2 separate regions of the Homo sapiens genome follow, and region 2 is linked to region 1. A link means that fine-mapping ties the variant in region 1 to the expression of a gene that starts in the linked region. Tissue or cell type: gastroesophageal junction. Region 1 holds a variant in brackets; the other region holds the start of a gene. All regions are shown on one strand. Distances are between the middles of the regions. Region 1 overlaps VPS33B-DT (VPS33B divergent transcript). Region 2 holds the start of VPS33B-DT (VPS33B divergent transcript).

Evidence for each region.
Region 2: VPS33B-DT starts here. The variant in region 1 is fine-mapped to the expression of VPS33B-DT in gastroesophageal junction (GTEx, PIP 0.98).

The regions. Positions count from the first base shown.
Region 1 is chr15:91,029,533-91,032,443 of GRCh38, forward strand. It overlaps VPS33B-DT (VPS33B divergent transcript), which reads left to right. Exons shown (of 4, transcript NR_110104.1): 3 at 349-709; 4 at 1,127-1,607. It also overlaps the pseudogene LOC390638. Among named protein-coding and RNA genes, the nearest start is that of VPS33B-DT, 8.4 kb to the left of the region's middle. The variant G/A (reference allele first, on the strand shown) is at 1,643.
Region 2 is chr15:91,021,221-91,024,131 of GRCh38, forward strand. VPS33B-DT (VPS33B divergent transcript) reads left to right here and starts at 1,402. Exons shown (of 4, transcript NR_110104.1): 1 at 1,402-1,520; 2 at 2,093-2,751. VPS33B (VPS33B late endosome and lysosome associated) reads right to left here and starts at 1,374. Exons shown (of 23, transcript NM_018668.5): 1 at 934-1,374. The coding sequence starts at 1,029. RefSeq lists enhancers at 458-1,074, 929-1,338.

The DNA.
Region 1 (2,911 bases):
GCCCAGGTGGGAGGATTGCTCAAGCCCAGCAGTTTGAAACCAGCCTGGGCAACATGGCAAGACACCATCTCTGCAAAAAATACAAAACATCAGCCAGGCATGGTGGTGCGCACCTATGATCCCAGCTACTGAAGAGGCTGAGGTGGGAGGATCCCTTGAACCCAGGAAGTTGAGGCTGCAGTGAGTCATGTTCACACCACTGCAGTCCAGCCTGGGTCACAGAGCGAGACGCTGTCTCAAACAATAAATAATCAACCCGATTGTGGCCGATGAAAAATTTGGCAGTTTGATTTGGAGCTCATGGAAACTTTCTCAAGTTCATGATTAATCTTTTCCCATATTTTGAAGTTCTAGGACAAGGAGACTGGCTTTCACAGAGGTTCGGGTTGGGTTCAGTTTTCTTCAGAAGAACTTCAGAATGCACTACAACAGGAAAATCATATTCTAGATGGAGTCAAGTCAATCTGTTTGTATACCAGATACATCTATGATATACATGCAGCTACTATCTGATTATGTATCAATTAAATAGATCATAAATGTGGAACGATGGGGACTTTGAGAGATTTGTAACTGAAGCTGCCTTCATGCTTGTTAGAATGCTGGGGTGGAAGAGTTCCCAGTTTTAAAGGAGAAGTACAAGAAGACCTGTAATTGTTAGCAAGATATACAGAACACAGTGCACACAGCAGCGCACTTCTCAAGTCAGGTAAGCTGGGGCTGAAATCTTGCCTTTCCTGCTTATTATGCGATCTTGGGCCAGATTGATTTATATTTTATTTTTTAATTTATTTGTTTTCGTTGAGACTGGGCCTTTCTATGCTGCAGGTTAGTTTTGAACTCCTAGCCTCAAGCTGTCCTCTTGCCTCAGCCTCCCACAGTGCTGGGGTTATAGGACTGAGCCACTGTGACTTGCCCAATTTACAATTTTTAATGGAGGGTGAGGGAGTCATAGGAACAACAAAGATGGTAAAGGGAGTTTGAGGAGAAAACAAATAAAAGAACAAGGTGCACATAAAAACTGCCTGAGTTCTTTTCACTGACTCCCTCATAAAAAGGCGATTTTCAGATCGAATGTTTTTGCAGACATTGCCTTTCCTTCCTTACAGTGCTTATTTTTTTCCAGCTCCAGGTTCAAGCTCAAAGGCCTAAAGTTTTGCAAACATCTGGTGAAGAGGAAGATTTTTGAGACTCTCCCAGCCTATTACATAAAGGAAACATAACCGAGAATTTTGTCTAAAGGTTTTCATTTGAAACAAAGCAAGAGCTTCTTTTCCCCACTCCGAATTAAAACACAGCGCAACAGGGGCCACATTTATTTGGCAGGACAGTACCAATATGTGAACATCCTCCTCCTCACTGCCGTTGGGGTGACTTGACTCATAAGCAGCTGTTCTTACACAAAATATTAACCCGAACTGCTAGTGTCACACAGAAGGAAGTGGTCTTGATTGTGTATGTGGGCCAGCATGTTCTACAAATGCTGAAAGGTGGGAGAAGCACAAATACAACCCACTCTTTAAAAAAACTAAATAATTCAAAGTAAAATTTTCTATCCCCGCCCCCTCCCCACCCTTGCCTTCTCCAATAATAAAAAGTAGAATCCAGATTTGGTTTGTATCCTGACCATTCACAAAGTGTC[G/A]TGCCACAGCACTTGCATCATTAGGGTTATGGATGATCACAGTTCATTTGCTTTGAAGAGACGTGTGTCTGCTCCTTCCTCCTCTTCTTGCCTTCATGCTCATGTTCTCTGGGGCAGCTGCTGAGGGTCTTTGAGGGCCACCATGCTGTCTGGCTTCTTCCAAAAATGTGTCCAAATCAAAAGAATCTTCCTCAAACTGAACTGGTCCTTCTCAGCCTCTCGGCTTCTCTGTCTATGGTCTGAAAAACTCCTTGTTGGGAACAAATCTAGGGAACAAGAGAAAAGACTATGAACTACTTTATTTTCACTGGTGTAAACACTGAAACAGAGTTGTATGGCTTGATACCTGTTGGTCTTTCTTCTGGCTTCTAGGTCATGACCATACATATCCTTGTCCAGGTTTTTACCAGACCTATAAATACTCTGGGCCATATCTTTATTTACCACCTCTCCAGGCTTGATCGTAAACATTATAAATTTTGTCTTCTCCACCTGCAAATCCACTGTCCATACCCTGTAGAAAAGTGGATGACATTAAATGAAAATATAAACACCAATTATTAAAAGATGAATCTGACAACATTCATGTGAAGAGTAAACTCTTGCTAATTTGTAGCTCAAATTTTCCACAGCCTGAACTGCAAATTGTAAAAAAGTCTTCATTGGACTGGGTGTGGTGATTTAGGCCTGTAATCCCAGCACTTTGGGAGGCCGAAGAGGGCAGATCACTTGAGGTCAGGAGTTCAAGACCAGCCTGGCCAACATGGAGAAAGCCCGGTGGGTCTCCCCACACGCGGAATCGCCCCCGGTCCTTGGGGTTGGGGCTGCCGCCTCTGGCTCCTTCTGGGCCAAGGCCACTGGGTGAGCCAGGTGCTGGCAACACACCCTTTGCTCCTTCAGCTGCCCATGTAGCTGTGCCTGCTGCTCCTCCTCGGCACTGACTAAAGCTGAGTTTAAAAAGGCCACCTGCAGGCAAGACATATGCATTCTTGTAGGGGGATACACAGGACAAACGCGGCAGGGAGGGGGAGAGGAGGTCTTCCTTTGGGGCCTCAGAGGGTGCACCTGTGGGTCACAGGTGAAATGATGTCTGATCACTGGCTCCCAGGGAAGGCACGAGGGTCCAGAGAAATCAGAGGGCAGGAAACAAAGAGCAAAAGGGGGTCTGGGAGGGACCACAGAGGGAGGCAGCAAAGGTGGGGCAGTGGGAGTCAGGCTCACCATGGCCTCCCGGCTCTTCAGGTCCTCCAAGATGCTCGGCATGGGCTG
Region 2 (2,911 bases), 8.3 kb before region 1:
ACCTTCCAGTCTAATGAGGAATACAGACATAAAATGAATAACTAAATGATTACACAAGTAATCCATTAAAATCACAGTGGCAGTATTATTTTCCTAATAACCCAGGTTAAAAATCTCACTCATTTTTGCTTCTCCTTCAACATTTATAACCAATCAGTAAGTCTTTGAGTTTTCTTTCACCATAACTTAAAAATCCATCACTTTCCTTCATTCCCACTGCTACCAATTTTGTGTGGGCCTTTATTTCTTGTCTGATCTACGGTCTCCTAACTGGCCTTCTTGTTGCCCATTTACGCCACCACACACATCACTATTAGAATCATCAAGTATTGTCTCATGCCACAAATGGAAAAAAAATTTTTTTCAGTGGCTACTGTGTAACTGCTGATGGGTGTCTTCCCTTACATGCCTTGTCTTTCCCTGGTTTGCCAACTTTGCTCCTACCAATCTATCTGCCTGGAGCATGCTTAGTCTCCAAAGAAAATATGCTTATTACTCACACTCACTTCCTTGAAGCTCCTAGATCATCACCCCAACTAGAAATGATCACTTACTGTGAACTCTTCGGGTACACTAGCTCTATCACTCATTTACCACCTGTGTGTGATAATTTGTGCTTCATACAGCTCCTACTGGAGTGGTAAGATCCCTAATGGCAAAGATGTCTTAACCATCTTTCCGTCCCTAGGGATGCCTGGCACTAATGGTGTCTCCCTTGCCTGTATGCGGGGTTGGGGGGTGATTTCCATTAACTCTCTGGCCAGGTTCCAAACAGCTCTTACTACTCCCTGGATTCATTCTGGACCTGCTGGGGAAGCGCCAAGGACAATACCAGGGGCCAAGAACAAGATCAAAGGGGCACGGCAAGGAAGAAATGTGCATCCAATGAGTGCTAAACTGTAGATGCGATAAAGGCGTCAGGCAAGCACTGACCTGCTCCAGCAGATAGATGAGCTGGTCTCGAGCCAGCCTCTTCAGCATGGAGAAGTCAGGCAGCTCAGGGGCGTCCGGCCGATGGGGAAAAGCCATGGCAGCGGTCACCTGCGCCGCGGGGTGGAAGGACGCCCTTCGTTCTGAGAAGGCCGGCCGCAGCCCAGGGAAGCGCAAGGGGGGCTATCCTTCAGGCCTGGGCACCGACTTCCAGAGACCCCAGATGGGCCCTCGCTCCTCAGCAGCACTCCAGGAATGAATGGCCACCTCCAGGCAAGAGAGCTACTACCTCGGAGCAGCCTTGTCTCAGACCTGCAGCCACCGTGTCTCGACCCTCCCTCCCTGATCCACTCTGCCCGTCAGCAGGATTCCGGTCTACACCCCGCAGAGACTCCGCAGCGTACGAGGAGAACCCCGCCTTCTACCAGAAAAAGAAGCGACTTCCTAGATCTCCCGGAAGTCCCTTTCGCTCCCAGCGCTTCGCGTACCAGGAAGGGGACGGCGTCCTGAAAGGGACATTTGAAAAACGGAGGCAACGCGTCTATTAATTAGGTGGCGGCGCCTGGGGTCGCAGCACTCCAGAGGCTGAGGTGGGAGAATCGCTCGAGTCAGGGAGGCGGAGGTTGCAGTGAACTGCGATCGCGCTACTGCACCCCAGCCTGGGCAACAAAGCTAGACCTTGCCTCAAAAAAAAAAAAAAAAAAAAAAAAAAAGACATAATGAATGCATCAGGCTAGCTAACAATACCTCAACTCTGATCAATCATACCATCATATCATTTCCTGGTGAGATGCATAGGAAATACAGAGCATCACCTATTGCCAAAAATTGAACCTAATCAAGCCTCAAGATCTAACTACCAGTTTATAGGCTATATAGAGATTAGCAGGAATATGTTAAGACACCAAAGGTATGAAATCAACCATATCCAAAATGTAGGAAATTATATGGGACAAATGATCTGTCGTCTTCAAAAAAATGGCAAAGTGGGAAATGTGGGAGGGGAAAACACTTCAGAATAAAAGAGATTTAAGAGATGTATCAACAAAATGTTTCAATGTGTGGATCTTTTTTGGATAATAATTCAAAGATAACTGATTTAAGGAATTACTAAAACTTTTCGGGTATTGTATTTCTTTTCTTCTCTTTTTTTTCCTGACAGAGTCTCGCCCTTTTGCCTAGTGGAGGAGCTCGGCTCACTGCAAGCTCCGCGCCACAACCCCCCTGCCGCCCCAGGTTCAAGAGATTCTCCTGCCTCAGTCTCCCGAGTAGACTGGGATTACAGGCGAGTGCCACCATGCCCGGCTAATTTTTGTATTTTTGGTAGAGACGGGGTTTCATTATGTTGGCCAGGCTGATCTCGAACTCCTGACCTCAAGTGATCCGCCTGCCTTGGCCTCCCAAAGTGCTGGGATTACAGGCGTGAGCCACAACGTTGGGCCAGGTATTGTATTTCTATGTTATTATTATTTTTTGTATTTCTATGTCATACAGGCTTGTATTTCTGTTAAAAACAAGTCCTTATCTCTTTGAGATACATACTGAAGTTTTTACAGGTGAAATAATTTGGCCAGGAGTAATGGTTCATGTCTCTAATTCCCACCACTTTGGGAGGTCCAGGTCGGGGTCGGGGGGTTGCTTGAGGCCAGGAGTTTGAGATAAGATTGGTCAACTACAACACATAAAAAATAGCCAGGCATGGTGGTGGGCACCTTTAATCTCGATACTTGGGAGGCTGAGGCAGGAGGATCACTTGAGCCCAGGAGTTTGAGGCTGCAGTGCGCTACGATCATGCTACAGCACCCCAGCCTGGGCAACAGAGTGAGACACCGTTTGTTTTTTCTTTTCTTTTTTTTTTTTTGAGACAAGGTCTGGCTTTATCTATCACCCAGGCTGGAGTGCAGTGATATGTTCTGTCTCTTTTTTTTTTGAGATGGAGTTTCGCTCTTGTTGCTCAGGCTGGAGTGCAATGGCACGATCT